Linked DNA regions of Homo sapiens: regions 1 and 3 are each linked to region 2. The links come from fine-mapping of genetic effects on gene expression. A gene starts in region 2. Each other region holds a variant in brackets. All regions are shown on one strand. Distances are from middle to middle.

Region 1 (5,226 bases), 48 kb after region 2:
AATTTGAACCCAAACAGTGCACATCCCAAGTCCACATACTTAGCCACTGTCCTCTGTTGCTTCTCATCATCTGTGAGGCAGGTTCAGGAGTATCTCATTTTTTTTTCCAAGGCAAACTAATTAGTACAGTGCCTGGCACAGAATAAATAAGCACCCATACATGCCAGATAACATTGTCAGTATAACTTCTGGAAGTTTCTGAGTATTCATGACTTATTCTTTTTTTTTTTTTTTTTTTTTTTTTTTTGAGACAGAGTCTTGCTCTGTTACCCAGGCTGGAGTGCCGTGGCGCGATCTCGGCTCACTGCAAGCTCCGCCTCCCGGGTTCACGCCATTCTTCTGCCTCAGCCTCCTGAGCAGCTGGGACTACAGGCGGCTACCACCACGCCCGGCTATGATTTTTTCTATTTTTTAGTAGAGACAGGGTTTCACCGTGTTAGCCAGGATGGTCTCGATCTCCTGACCTCGTGATCTGCCCACCTCGGCCTCCCAAAGTGCTGGGATTACAGGTGTGAGCCACCACGCCCGGCCGACTTTTTCTTGTTACTAACAATAGCTCTTTTTCCCTGATCCTCTCCCTCCTCCTACCTCCCGCCCTCCAATAGGCCTCAGTGTGTGTTGTTCCCCTCTTTGTGTCCATGTGTTTTCATCATTTAGCTCCCACTTATAAGTGAGAATATACAGTATTTAGTTTTGTGTCCCTGTGTTAGTTTGCTAAGGATAATATTTGGCCTCCAGCTCCATCCATGTCCCTGCAAAGGACATGATCTCCTTCCTTTTTATGGCTGCATAATATTCCATGACGTATACGTACCACATTTTCTTTAATAATGGGTACTAGACTTAATACCTGGGTGATGAAATAATCTGCACAACAAACTCCCTTGACACAAGTGTACCTATGTAACAAACCTGAACGTGTACCCTGCAACTTAAAATGAAAGTTAAGAAAAAAACACACACACAAAACAAACAAAAAAAACTATAGTTGCCATTTTAAACACCTATGATGTGTCAAACATTCCTTCAGCCCTCCCAACTATCCAGAAAGAGTCCTTCTTTTATAGATGAAAAAACTAAGAATCAAAGAGATGAAATCGGGCAGAGTAGAGACAGGATTCAAACCCAAGATCTGCATCTTGGACTCACAACACTGGAAGAAACTTCAGACACCAGCCTAACTTCACACCCAGCTCAGGACTGGCCCTGCCGAATGGTCACTCACCTGCTCTGAAAATCCTCGCGACAGGACGCTCACTTCCTACACCGGTAGTTCTCTGGCTCGAGGTGTGCCACAGAATCCCCTACGCATTGTTAGAACACAGAACATTGCTACCCCCACCCCGTGCAGGGCTTCTGGCGTGGTGGGGCTGGGACAGGGGCCTGAGAGTGTGCATTTCTCACAAGCTGCCACAGGATCCTGATGCTGCTGGCCCAGGGACCACACTTGGACAGTCATCGTTCTAGGAAAACTTCCTGGAGTGGGAATGGTAAAGGTGATGGCTTCTTCCCATTTTGCCCTTTTCAAATCTGAGATAGGCTTCCCCAGCAGGCTCAGTGCCAGAGTCCATACCCTCAATTTAAATAACAAATCCTCCTCTATATCATGACCTTTCCTCCAGAGGGTTGTTTTTCATTTTTTGTTTTTTGTTTTTTTTTTGAGACGGAGTCTTGTTCTATCACCAGGCTGGAGTGCAGTGGCACAATCTCGGCTCACTGCAAGCTCCGAACCCCGGGTTCACGCCATTCTCCTGCCTCAGCCTCCTGAGTAGCTGGGACCACAGGTGCCCACCACCACGCCTGGCTAATTTTTTGTATTTTTAGTAGAGACGGGGTTTCACCATGTTAGCCAGGATGGTCTTGATCTCCTGACCTCGTGATCCACCAGCCTCGGCCTCCCAAAGTGCTGGGATTACAGGAGTGAGCCACCGCGCCCGGCCCAGAGGGGTTTTTAAGATTGTGTGTTCTGAATGGCCTGTCTCTGACTGGAACCCAACTCCGTCCCCAGACCCACTTCCATCTTTTTCTGTGAGGGGGACACACTCTTTCAACTTTTCCAAAATGGCATCTACCATGGCTTTTCTGATTAAAAGCAAACGAAACACACCCTTCCTATAATCAAAAATTTAGAAAAGCAGCAAAAATAAAAAGGGGATAAGGAAGAAAACAGAAATTAACCACCATCCCACCGCTAAAATTTTGATGAGTTCTCATGTGTTTCCTTGCAGCTGATTGTTGTTTGGCATACATTTATTAATATTGGAATTAAAAATATATATGGCACTTTATATCCTAGAAAATAGTAATACTGTAAATGTGTTCTAGAAATGGGAGCTGCTGTTGCTCTTATTAGAGAATTCAAACAAAGAAGGGAGGCTCGCTGGGGACAGCTTCTGGGGGAGGATGGGTACCGCTTTGAGACAACAGGGAGAACTCAGGCACAGAGGTGACGATCATCGTTCTCTGTGGGGCACATAGTGATGCAGCCGGAAACAGGTATGAGTCAGTTGAGTGGGGACAGGTAATAGAGAGCTAGAACTGGCTGGCCTTATGGCCTCCAAGGCATTGGGGAGCCACTGTACATTCTTGAGCAGGCAATGACTTCACAAAAGGATTTCTCAAAGGTTAGTCCTGCAACAGAAGACAGCGTGGATTGGACTGGAAGAGTGGGAGGGCAGGTGGAGAAGGCATTGTGCTGCAAGTGGGGAGCAGCCCTGGGGGCCCAGCCAGTCCCCTGTGCCCTGACAAGTGGTATGGCATGGATGGATGGCTCTACTTCTGGGCCGCCAGGATGGACAGGTACTGGTTGCTCTTCACCATGGCGATAATGAGGAGGCCACCGGTCAGCAGGAAGGTGGGCCAGAAGAGGGAGAAGAGGAGGGCCTGGGGCCCGTAGAGGCGCTGGAATAGGACGCTGGTTTCGTTCCCCCGAGGTGCGGAGAAGCAGTAGAAGACCTGCTGCTCTTGGAATTTGGCTCTGACCTTCTCCACGTCGGCCCGGGCCGTCTGGTAATTGTCCACGCTGCCTGGGATGTAGGAGCACTGTGGGGAGAAACAAGAGCAGCTGTGGGCTTGGAAATCCCCATTTCTTAGCCAAGGGCTTGATATGGAGTAAAGAAAAATACCAGCTTTGTAGTCGGGCCCCTGGATTGGAGTCGGGGCTTTGGTCTAAAGCTTGGCAGGCCATGCGCTGTACAGGTCTGGAGAGCA[C/T]GCTCTCATTTGTGTCTTGTGTGTGGATGGCGGTGCTGGAGCTGCTCGGGGTACAGGCTACACACCTGGGCGCAGGTCCTACCTTGGAGTCCTGGCTCTGCTTGGATTGGCTGTAGAATTTTTGGCAAATTTCTCACTCTTTCTGAGCCCTGAAGCTTCATCACTTAAATGGGTGAATATCGGTTTCAAAGGATATTATGAAAGAAGGACTTCACACAGAGCTATCTAAGGAAACCAGGGAGGGACACAGGCCAAGTGGGCTGTGTATTTGAAATCGAGATCATGTGCTCAATTGCCTACAGGGCTCATGAAGGTATTGTCAGAGGGTGAAGCAGGCAAAGCAATGAGATGACAGGTGCCCACTGACTCTTGCCTTGGTGCCAGGAAGAATTGCCAGGGTGTGGCAGGGCCTGTCAATAGGGAGAGAGCCAGCTGCCTCCAGACAGGCAGTCACCACTCCCTCCAGGCAATGGATGTCAGGCCATCCAGAAGATCTATAATAGCCAGACCTCCAACACTTTAAGAGAAGTTAGAAACCAGATCACACCTGTAATCCTAACACTTTGGGAAGCCGAAGGGGAAGGATCCCTTGAGCCCAGGAGTTCGAGACTAGCCTAGGCAACATAGCAAGACTTTATCTCTACAAAAAAAGTTAAAAATTATCCAGGTGGGCATGGTGGTGTACCTGTAGTCCCAGCTACACAGGAGACTGAGGTGGGAGGATCACCTGAGCCCAGGAGTTGGAGGCTGCAGTGAGCTATGATCTCGCAACTACACTCCAGGTAAGGCAACAAAGCGAGATCCCATTTCAAAAAAAAAAAAAAAGTAAAATATTAGCTAAATTTAAAATTGAAAACCTTTGCAGTTTCAACCTGTGTACAGCAAACAAACTATGTTGGCAAGCGGGTATTTGACACTGGGATCCAAAGGAAAGAAAGAATGCATTGAAAAGAGTTTTGTGCCAGCAGAGCATGACACACATTTAATTCTGACGTTGATTATTGTTATTAGGAACTTTCTGCCCTGTTCAGATGAGGCCAGCTGGAAAGTGATGCAAAGCAGTCATAAAGCGGAGTTTTATCTGGTTTTATCTCTGTTCTGAGCTGCAAGTGTGGTGCCCCCATCTGCAGCAGAATACCTACAGGGCCCCCATAGCCCAGGTCCCTACCCACTCTGCATCACTGAGGGCGAGACCCAGGAATGTGTGATTCCTTCATGCACTTAATTTTGCCCTAGTGAAATCATGTGCAAGATCAAAATGTGTAAAACTGAGACCCAAATGGCAGGTGTTGAGCCAGATTCCTTGCAGGCCTCGGCCACTCCCTGGATTTATATGAGGTGCCACCCTGGAAGCTGCCTGCCCTGAGGGCATTCACTCCAGCAACACAGAGGAGGGTTGCACTGTAGTTCTCACAGCCTGGGAAATGCAGATGCTGCACTCAGATCTAGGGCCCCAGCCAGCCAGGGAGTAGCTGAGGCTGGGGAGACGCTGGCTCCTCAGGAATCTGGCATTCAGAGCTGTTGGACACTGCCAGGTCCTCAGTAGCATATAATCCAGCATCCTGAGCTGACGGTGAGGGGGCCTGGCCTGAGTCTCTCCAATGCCTCTGACTGTGACCTTGGCTAACCTAGCTCCTTAAATAGCAGTGTGGCTATGGAGTCAGACAGGCCTGAGTTCTGAGCTGTGTGACCTTGGCAACTGCCACAACCTCACTGGGCCTTGTAAAATGGGTTTGTGAGGCTACCTGCCTAGGAGAACTGTCATGGGGATTAAATGAGATGATGCATGTAAAGCACTGAGCACAGAAGCCCAGCACACGATAAGAACTCAAAAAAGTGGAAGATGCTATTATTAATAATAATATGTTTTGACTTATCTATGAAATTGCAACAACAGCTCCTTCTTTACCTTCTTAAAAAGAGGTCTATGGATGAGCTCTGAAGTAGAGGCTTCTGTCCATCCTGGGCCTAGTGTATCCTCTGCCTGCTCAGGGTTCCTCTGGATCTTTTATGCTG
Region 2 (5,226 bases):
TTGTTTTCAACACTCACTATGTGCTAGGCACTGTTCTAAGCATTTGACCTATGTTGTCTCATCTAATCTTTACAACCCTATCAGGGTGTACTATCATTAACATCCCATTTTACTGAGCACAGAGCTCAAACAACTTGCCCATGTCCACACAGCATGAAGCCAGGATTCAAGCCCTGTCCCACACTGTGCTCCTTGCAGAACATCTCCACCTCAAGGTTTTTCATCCACCTCTAACCTACCATGCCCCAAATGGAATTCACAATCCAAATGGAATCCTTTCCCCCAAACTGTTCTCCTTGTATTTCCAGGGGAAGATCCAGGCTTGGTGGAGCCTGAGGATTCTATAATTGGCCAGGAAGGGGCTCTTTAGGAAAAAATAAATAAAAAGAAAACAATGAATACAAGAGTAGGTTTAGGACCTTGATAGTGGATGTGAAAGGGAGGGATTCTCGCACATAACCTTCATTAGCTTCATGGTGAACCCCACCCCATACATTTTGTATTCCAGTGGCTAGCATCTAGTCATTCCAGCAGGGGCATGGAAAATTCTTCTCTTTATATTCCCTCCCTCTTCCCTTCTTCATCCATATGGAACCATGGATAGCACTCTAGTTCTACCTTCCTCAAGTCTCTAGAATCCCTCTTTACCTTTTCACGTACACTATCCTGATTAGCTCAGGTCCTCAACATCCCACACTCGGACCATAGCCATAGTCCACTCTGTCTATTCCTGCCACTTCCTGGACTTTCCCCAACACAGTTCCTGTGCTTAGCAGGGTGACCATCAGAAACATGCATCTCATCAACCCTTCTGTGATGGTCCATTTTCCTCTGACTAGCATCTACATTCCTTAGCCCAGCAGTACCCAGCACAGGTCAATCTTGCCAGCTTTACTTTTCCCTGTGCTCTCCTTTTGTTCCTTTCTTCAACAAATAATTATTGAGGACCTATTCTTGAGTACTATTATGAAGTGCCAATAGTAGGGTAATTGAATGCTAAACACTGAATATGCAGTAGCAATCAAGACCAGATCTTTCACACCTCTTGTCCCATCACACCAAATAGCTTGCAGTTTTTAGACTCTAAGACTGTGTTCAGCTTCTTTCCCTTTTCCTAGGCTGCAGGGAAGCTTTTAAATTCATTGATTACCTGAATAATAACCACTTATCCTTCGTGGATCAGATACAGTGTTATCTCCCATATAGAGCATTTTCTGATCACCCTCCAGCAGCAAAAATGGATCCCTTCCTCATTTCTATCCCAAATGTGCTTTTGAGATCTGATATTCCCTCAGAACACCTAATATACTTTGATGCAACTACTTGACTATTGAGAAGGTCTCCCTCATTTCAAAGCAAACATTTGGATCAAAGAGACATCATTTTATTCATCTCTACATCCTCACTGGAACCTGCCATATAGTAGACACCATACATTCATACATACGTACATTCACCAACTCATTCATCTTCATCCATCCATCCATCTACCCATCCATCCATTCATCTATCTACTCACTAATCCATCTACCTACTCACCCATCCAACCATCCATCTACTCTTTCATCCATCTACCTACCCACTTGTCCATTTAACCATCTACTCATCCATCTACCCACCCACCTGTCCATCCATCTACCATTTTATTCATTTACCTACCCATCCGTCCATCCATCCATCTACTCATCCATCTACCCATCCACCTGTCCATCTACCCACTCACTCATCCGTCTACTCACCCACCTGTTTATCCATCCATCTACCCACCCACCTATCCATCCAACAAATATTTCTGAATGTCCTCAATGTCCCAGCCATTTCTCCAGACTCTTTGGATATAGAGAAGAACAAGAAAGAAGAGGCCTCTGCTCTCACTAGCCCTACATTCTAGTGTCTGTTGCAGGGTCAGTGAGGGGTGGGTAGGGGGTCACAGACTACGGAAATAAACAAAGTAGGTGAGTGAGAAGTACTGTAAAGTAAATTAACAGAGCAATATCCCAGAGGGTACTACTTTAAAAGGAATGGTCAGGTCACCTTACAAGAAGGTGGCCTTTGTGATGAGTCCCAAATGATAAGAAAGGAAGCAGCCAAACAAAGAGAGACAGAAAGTCCTGATGTGGGAATGAGCTTTGTGTGTTTGAGGAACAGAAAAGAACAGAGTAAGCAGAGGAGAGGACAGAGATGAAGGCAGGGAAGTTAGGGAAAGTGTAAGAACTTGGAAAATACAGGAAACTCAGCAACAGCCAGACCTGATTTTGAATCCTTTCTCTAGCATTCATCTCTACACGTATGACCTTAACCAAGTCACCGCACCTTTCTTAGCCCCCATTTCCCCATCATGGAATGGGGACACAAGTACCTATGTCATTGGGCTTAGGGGAGAAAGTTCGGTAAAATGTCTGACACATGATAGATTTTGACAAACATTATTTCCTCTTCTTTTCTTGCTTTAAACATATAATGATGCTGTTACCTTAAAAGTTAGGTTATGCCATTAGAAGGCGCCTTTGTTCTTTGCTCTTGTTCTACCAAAATGAGAAAATGGCAAAAATCGCAGGGTGGGTCTCAGTTCTCCATTTTGTTAATATCCAAGTTGATATTTCCCTTTTGCGACAGTAACAACAACATGCAAACCAAAAACTGAAACAGCTTCAGTTCTGTGCCCTCAGGATCCAGCGTGGGACTCGTGAGAACCCTCCAGAGACAGCCACATTTCGAAGCAAGTGGCACAGGCTTTGCAGAAGGCACACTGGGCCCCTCTCAAAACTCAAGCAGCAAAGATGATGAGAGAGCTGCAGACTTCGGGGCGTGGAGGATGGGACTAAGCCGCAGAGTGCCTTGTCTAACATGTTTTAGGAAGCACCCTTCTCTTTCCCGACTCACATGGGGCAGCTATAATAATTCAGCTTCACGTGGCTGAATTATTTTCTGTTTTCACTTGGTTCTTTTTTTCTTCTCCTTTAAGAAAAAAAAAGTCCAAATAGGCTTTGGGCCACACTGGACTACCTAGTAAGGGGGATAGATGATCTAGATGATTTGAGAGCTGGTTTTCTGAAAAGCCAGGGAGCTCTGGTCTTGAGAAGACTCAGTAGCCAGGAAGCTGAGGAACACACACACACACACACACACACACACACACACACACAAACACACCCCTTCCTGGCTCCAGTTCCGCACCACCCCACACCCCCAACACCGGAAGTAGATTTCTCAATAGGCAGGGCTGGGTATGAGTCACAGGCAATTCCGTTTTGTTTGGGACCATGAGACCTCCCACTCCTGGGGCCAGAAGGAGTTGCTGAGAAGGAGCTGTGGTTCTGACCTTCAGGGGAATTCCCACGTCTGTATGGTGGCTCGTGAAGAGCATGGTTCCTTTTCTCAGCCCTCTTGAGGGGCGAGGATGCTGAGGACTGAAGTCGGTGGGGCTTGATGCATGTGGTGTGTGGATGGTGTGGGGAGGTGGGGAAGGAGGACTAACATGAATGGTGTGAGGTCTTTCAGAGGGGTCTTCCCAAGGTCACATAGTTGACGGGGGGTGAGTACTCACACTCGTGCAAAGGTGGGGGATAGGAAGGGAAACTGAGGCCATTAGTATTTGGCACCATAGCTGGTCTCTGAGGCTTTCAAATGTTCCCCCAGGAGGTTCAGCCTCTGTGGGGAGAAGCCAGGGGAACCCCATGGCACATCCCCAGCCCTGCCTGCTACCCGCCTCTGCCATCTCCCCTTCCCCTGGGCTATGAGGGGAGGTAATGAGACCTGTGACTCATACAGTGCTCTCCTTTTCCCTCCTATCAGCTCAGACTAAGCAGAGAAGTGGGCAGAGCTCTTTCACCAGAGGTGGAGGGGCCTGTTGGGGAGGGGACCCACCAAATCCTTGGGGGTGGTTCTCAGCTCCCCGGAGATAGGGGAGATGAGACCTCAGGAAGGCTCTGATCAGGCGTCTTCTGTTCTCTTTCCTTTCTTGGGTGGGAATGATGCTTCCCACTTTTGTGGTCCACCTGCAGGCCGCCTTTCATCCTTCTTCAAGTCACAGAGAGACAGAGAGGAGGGGACGAAGGACGAGCCATGGGGTTTTGAAAGCAGGCACAGCAGCAGGGGTGCTGCCTCCAGGGGTCTGCTCTGCCAAGAGTTCCTGTCCCAGGTGTCTACAAAAACAGTCAAACTCTATAAAATACTTGGAGATTTATTCTGAGCCAAATATGAGTGACCAATAGCCCGTGACACAGACCTCAGGAGATCCTGCCCAAGGTGGTCAGGTTACAGTTTGGTTTTATATATATTAGGGAGATACAAGAAATAAATCAATACATAGAAAATGTACGTTGGTTTGGTCCGGGAAGGCAGGACAACTCAAAGCAGAGGCTTCAAGTCATAGATACATTCAAAGATTTTCTGATTGACAATTGGTTGAAAAAGTTGTATTATCATCTAAAGACCTAGAATCAACAGAAGAGAATGTCTGGGTTAAGATGAGAGGTTGTGGAGACCAGGGTTCCCATTATGCAGAGGAAGCCCCAGGTAGCAGGCTTCAGAGAGAATAGGTTGTAAATGTTTCTTATCAGAATTAATTCTCTCCTGGAGCACGAAAAGGAAGGGGATTCTCTTCGAAATATAGATTTTCCCCACAAGAGACAGCTTTGCAGGACTATTTTGAGATACAGCAAATAAACATAACTTGGGGCAAAATACTTTGATTTTTTTTTTTCAGGGCCTGCTCTCTGTCATGTGATGCTATACTACAGCCAGGCTGGAATTTGGTGTCTTATTGCTACAAAGAATCAGCTTTGTCAATCCTAAGGTCTGTTTTAATGTTAATGCTGGTCAGTTGTGCCTGAGTTCCAAAAGGGAGCAGGAAATAATGAGGCACGTTCGACCCTCCCTTCCCACCACGGTTTGCACTAGTTTTTCAGGTTAACTTTGGAAGGCTATTGGCCGAGGCGAGGGGTCCATTCAGATGGTTGGGGGACTTAGAATTTTATTTTTGGTTTACACAGGTCACTGAGAGGCTGCCAGAGGGCCATTTTCATGACCAGAGGGATCTGTTCAACACCCTGTGGGTCCCAGCACCTATCTCAGGAAGCAGGGTGCATCTGTCCACCACCAAGTCTCAGGGTGGCTGGGTGAGCGCTCATCAGTCCCAGACAGCAGGTTGGCACAAAACGACACTGCCCACAAAACCACAGGAAGAAGAGAAACTCCGACTGTCTTTCAGCACACAGAAGACAC
Region 3 (5,226 bases), 11 kb after region 2:
CTGCCTGTGACTCCTGAAAACATTTCCCAAAATTCACTGAGACCTCCCATCACTGGGAGGGAGAGCTGCCTCTGCCAAGCCCCCTGACCCACATCCTCTCTGGGGCAGAAGGGAAACCTCACCTGGCCAGGTGGGCTGATGGTAGAAGTGGGAGCTTGAGCTCCCTCTAGTGAGGCAGTGGGGGCAGCACAGAAAACACCTCCAACCTAGGCACAGGGTGACCTCTGCAGGACTTTCTCCCCATCAAGAAAGAGGAAGTGGCATTGAGTGAGTCCTGGTCAAAAATAGTCCATTTCTGTGGGTCCCAAGGGCAGTCCCGGCTCCCCAGCAGAGATCTTTTGAAATGCTCACTCTTCTGAGGTCCTTGGCTCTGAACCCAAAATTCCCCCATCTGTACACATGCAGATCTCTGGGGTCTGGGCGCATGTGATCCCCCGCAGACCTCCCTGCTGGAGGTAGCCTCCTTCCCATCCTTTCTCTGCCAGACCAAGCACACACTCTGCTCCCCTTGCTGGGCCTTGGGTTGGGTTTGTCCCAGCTCCTGCCCTGGTTGGGGGTGAGGGGTAGGTCATGACAGAGATGGAGCCCCATTTTCAGACTTAGCTTAGCCTCCTGGAAATCACCCTAAAGTATTTTTGGAGCTATTTAGCATCCTAAAGATCAGAAAACTATTGCAACCAGATGCTTGAGCTCTGCTGAGTCAGCAAAGATGCCCACAGCAGTGGGGAGCAGACCCTGGCCTGTGTCACTGTGAGTGAGCAGTGTGACTTCTCAGGGCTGCAGTCTCCTTGTCGGAAAATGGAAACTAAAATTGCTGGGATTAAAAGGGAGGAAAATATGGGAAAGCACTTTGGACAGTATAGTGTGCAAGTTGATGTTAGTATCTATTATTTTTAAAATCCGGAAGTCAGCTAAGATGCCTTATCCTATAAAACTCAAGTGGATTTTGCCAGAATGTCCTCACACCAAATAGTGGACCCCTTCTTTTGCTGATTTATCTGCTATTGTATAGGTGTATGTGTGTGTGGGTGTGTGTGTGTGTGTGTGTGTTAAGGCAGGTGGTAGTATGTGTAGGGTAGGGTTTCCCCAGTCACCTGGAGCCCTGAGTGCCTGCTTCCCTAAACTAGGCCAGTTTAGCTGACTGGCTTCCTTTGTGTATTGGTCCATTCTGCATCAAAAGCATCTGAATTTTCATTCAATCTCTCTTCTGAATTTTCACTTTTAAAAACCTGACCAGTCCCTTGTGTGTAACTGACTTCACAGGAGGTCTGAGGAGACAAAGGGGGTTGCTTCGTAGCCACACAAACAACTTCAAGTCAAATAATAGACCTGCAAATTGCTAAAAAGCCCTTTGGCTCTTTTCAATAACTGGAGGCCAGCCTCCCTCTCCTCTTTCTAAGCCCTCTTCATCTTTCTGTGTCCTCCGACAGCTGTTGTTTATCAAGGTGACCAGCATGATCCATCCCTCAACAAACAAAATTCCTTCCAGAAGAGGAAGGCAGGTGCCAGCTGTTGAGATAGTAATTTCTTTGTCCTGACAACATTTTTGTTTATCTCCGGACCTTCCATCCATATGGGTAAGAGACAGGAAAGAGCGAGAACTGGAAGGGACAGACACCACTGCAGAGGGTCCCGTGGGGGGCTTTAGAGAGGGGCTCCAATGCCTCTCATTGTTCTACCTCCCAGCCATTTTGTTGTTGTTGTTTTGAGACAGAGTTTTTGCTCTGTTGCTTAGGCTGGAGTACAGTAGCACGATCGCGGCTCACTGCCACCTCTGCCTCCTGGGTTCAAGTGATTCTCCTGCCTCAGCTTCCCAAGTAACTGGGATTACAGGCACCCACCACCATGCCCGGCTAATTTTTGTATTTTTAGTAGAGACAGGGTTTCACCATGTTGGCCAGGCTAGTCTCAAACTCTTGACCTCAGGTGATCCATCCGCCTCTGCCTCCCAAAGTGCTAGGATTACAGGCGTGAGCCACCACACCCGGCCCCTCGCAGCCATTTTGAAGGCCTGAGCTCCCTGATGGAAGGCATGGAGCCAAGCTCAAGCATTTTTCCACTGACATGGCAGGATCTTAATAGAGGTTTGTCCTGTGATTAAGTCCTTTATTGACGCTTTGGAGACACACAACCCATACCCTTCCCAACCTGAGCTGAAGCCACAGATGCAAAGGAGCCTGGGAACTCCTCAAGTCCACTTGTGTCCAGTCCTCTGCCCTCCTGCAGGGAAGCTCTGTAGTCCAAGGACATCCAACTCCCAGACTCACTTCCAGGGACAGAGATACGAGGATCTTGGGAGTAGAGCTGTGGGCAAGAATGCCAGACTCCTGGTGATTCTGGGATATAA[C/A]CCCTTGGAGGGGATTGTCACGGGTCTGTGTTCCTTCATGCCTCTAGTAGGATTCATGATCATCTTTATGACAATAGTGACAATAATGACAGCTACCATGGTCCAAGCCCTTATTACATGGTGGGTCCTTACACACATTTCTCATTAACTACATCATATGATGTAGGTAACTTTAGTATTCCCATTTTACAGATGGGGAAACTGAGGCTTATGAGGTTCAGTTTGTGTAAAATCACATAGCTGGAAGGTATGGAAACTGGGCTCTTCACCACCACAAGGCACCGCCTCTCACTCAGTATGCCACTGCATGCCCATGCAACAATTTACGATTAGGAATGAAATTCTCATACAGTCATGCATCACTTAACAGCAGGGATGCGTTCTCAGAAATGTGTCCTTAGGTGAATCCACTGTTGTGTGAACATCACAGAGTGCACGTATGCACACCTAGATGGCATATTCGACAACACACCTGGGCTCTCTGGTACAGCCTGTTGCTCCTGCGCTACAAACCTGCACAGCATGGGACTGTCCTGAATACTGCAGATGGCTGTAACACAACGGTGAGTATTCGTCTATCTAAACACAGCCAAACATAGAGAAGGTAGAGTGAAAATACAGTAGTATAGTCTTATTGCACCACCTTCGGATATGAGGTCAAGTGTTGACTGAAATGTCATTATATGGTGGGAGACCGTACATTACTTCATTTACACTTCACCTGGATATATACAACCTGGAAGCTCTTTTTCCAACCATATCACAGACAAAGAAATTGAGGCTTGTACAGGTGAAGGGGCCTGCCTTTCCTTTGCTCACAGGAATGTGAGGATGATACAAAAGTGAAGGATATTGGCATTCTTCAGGCAGGGAGATAACCTGGACAGGGGTGGTGCAGCAGGCATGTGCATAAAAGGAGCAAGAGAAGCCTTCTCTGTCGTGAGCAAGCTTGCAGGCCAGATGGAGAAAAATGAAGTAAAGTCACCCCAAAGCCTGGATTCTCATCTGGAGTGCCTCTTGCCTCTTGCCCTTCCCAGAACGCTCCAGCTTGGCACTGGGCTGGAATTCCACTAAGAATTGAGTTGATTTCGTCATCTGAGGCCCTGGGCACAATGACAAGGGTGGTTTTCTCGGATCTGCAGTGAGCATTACACCAGAGTGTGGGAAACAGTGCCTACTCAGGGACCCCACTCTGGGACCCAGGGCAAACTTGCCATCGTCTCCAGTCAGCTCATTAGCCGCCCAGGACTCTGCCAGCCCATCCAGGCAGTGATGTAATTACCAAAATGGAGATGAATATTTAAAGGGACTCTTACTTAACCGATATACTTCCTCTCCAAGTTCCCTCCTTCACCGGCTCTGGATGAATTTCTGGAGGGATTGCTCTGACATAGGCCCAGAGCTACCTGTGGTTTGACCTCATCATGAGGCCTTTCTTCACCCTTTCTTGGTGGCTTGCCTTGAGGGTGTTAGGAGATGGTCCATTGTCTGACTGTGAACAGCAGGGCAGCTCTTATATTCTCCATCAATGGATCTCTGGGGACAAGACCCAGATGGGTGGGGGGACAGGGGAAGGAAACATAAAAGCCAAAGGGACTGGATACCTGTAACTAATTACCCCTTTACTGTTTCTGTCACCAGACCTTAGTGCCACAAAGGATTGGGGGTCATTTGTGACAATGTATGTTGTAAAATGTAAAATGCAAGTGACCACAAATCTGAAAGCAGTATAGAGCTTTGGTTAAAATAATGCAGGCTCTCCACTGGCATTATTATTGTTGTTAGGAGAGTCTGGTGCTCTGTTCAAGGGCTTTTCTGTGCTATGGATTATCTCTGTTTAGCACAAAATATCTTGTGTCCCTGGAAACCCCTTAGTCCTGAGAAAACCAGGGCAGTTGGTCACCCCCCTGTTCAATGCAGGCATCAGTTCCACTAGGTAGGGGGTCTTAGCTGCATTTTAAAGATAAGGAAATAAAGACTTAATGGGTTGGAATAACTGGGTTATGTGCACATAGCTAAAGAATGGTTACACAAACAACTTCAAGTCAAATATTAGACCTGCGTATTCCTAAAATCCCTATGGCTGTTTGCAATAACTTGAGGCCAGCCTCCCTCTCCTCTTTTCTAAGCCCTCTTTACCTTTCTGTGTCCTCTGATGGCTGTTGTTTATCAAGGCAACCATCGTGATTCATACCTCAAAGCACGCTTTGAATTCTACTCCTATAGGCTCCAAAACCCTTATTATCCAGGTTCAGTATTGCTCTAAACTAGGTGAGGTCCTGAACAGACCCAGATTTCAAGCATATTCAGGTGGATTTGTTTAACAGAGTGTGGCTACTGGAACATCTGGAGCCCAAAGTACACAGGAGGCAGGAGAGAGCCTACTTTCCTGAAGAGAGGGACGGGCCAACTGTCCGACAATGAGGAGGTGGGCATTCTTTCCTTTGTAAAACAAAAAGTATCTGAGACAGGGGTCAGTCAATTCAGAAGCTTATTTTGCCAAACTTATGGACCATAACCCATGACACAGCCTCAAGAGGTCCTGAGAACATGTGCCCGAGGTGGCTGGGTTACATCTTGGTTTTACATGTTTGAGGGAGACTGAAGACATCAGTCAATACATGTGAGGCATACATTGGTTGGGTCCAGAAAGGCGGGACAACTTCAGAGGTGGGGAGTGGCTTTTAGGTCATGGGTGGATTCAAAGATTTTCTGGTTGGCAATTGGTTGAGAGTTAAGTTGTTATCCAAAGACTTGGAATCGATAGAAATGAGTGTCTGGGTTAAGATAAGGGGTTATAGAGACCAAGGTTCTTATTATGTAGATGAAGTCTCATTGGCGGCTGCCCCAAACGCAATAGATGACAAACGTTTCTTATT

Alleles and levels. Positions count from the first base shown, and alleles are read on the strand shown. Sizes are in standard deviations (SD) of each study's normalised expression. Not every link is listed here.
For the expression in tibial artery of the gene that starts at base 3,254 in region 2, allele T in region 1 goes with a higher level than allele C (large effect, 1.5 SD a copy in GTEx).

The links. PIP is the estimated chance that this variant, and not a neighbour inherited with it, causes the effect.
Region 1: its variant is the best candidate, but not a certain one, in a credible set for the expression of LINC01366 in tibial artery (GTEx, PIP 0.68).
Region 3: its variant is the best candidate, but not a certain one, in a credible set for the expression of LINC01366 in whole blood (TOPMed, PIP 0.81).

What each region holds. Positions count from the first base shown.
Region 1 is chr5:170,375,932-170,381,157 of GRCh38, forward strand. KCNMB1 (potassium calcium-activated channel subfamily M regulatory beta subunit 1) reads right to left here. Exons shown (of 4, transcript NM_004137.4): 4 at 1-3,042. The coding sequence ends at 2,773. It also overlaps a transcript of KCNIP1 not described here. Among named protein-coding and RNA genes, the nearest start is that of KCNMB1, 11 kb to the right of the region's middle. The variant C/T (reference allele first, on the strand shown) is at 3,211.
Region 2 is chr5:170,328,140-170,333,365 of GRCh38, forward strand. LINC01366 (long intergenic non-protein coding RNA 1366) reads left to right here and starts at 3,254. Exons shown (of 2, transcript NR_108025.1): 1 at 3,254-3,438; 2 at 4,995-5,226. RefSeq lists enhancers at 2,557-3,756, 3,321-3,490, 4,556-5,226.
Region 3 is chr5:170,338,886-170,344,111 of GRCh38, forward strand. No RefSeq gene overlaps it. Among named protein-coding and RNA genes, the nearest start is that of LINC01366, 10 kb to the left of the region's middle. RefSeq lists an enhancer at 334-543. The variant C/A (reference allele first, on the strand shown) is at 2,348.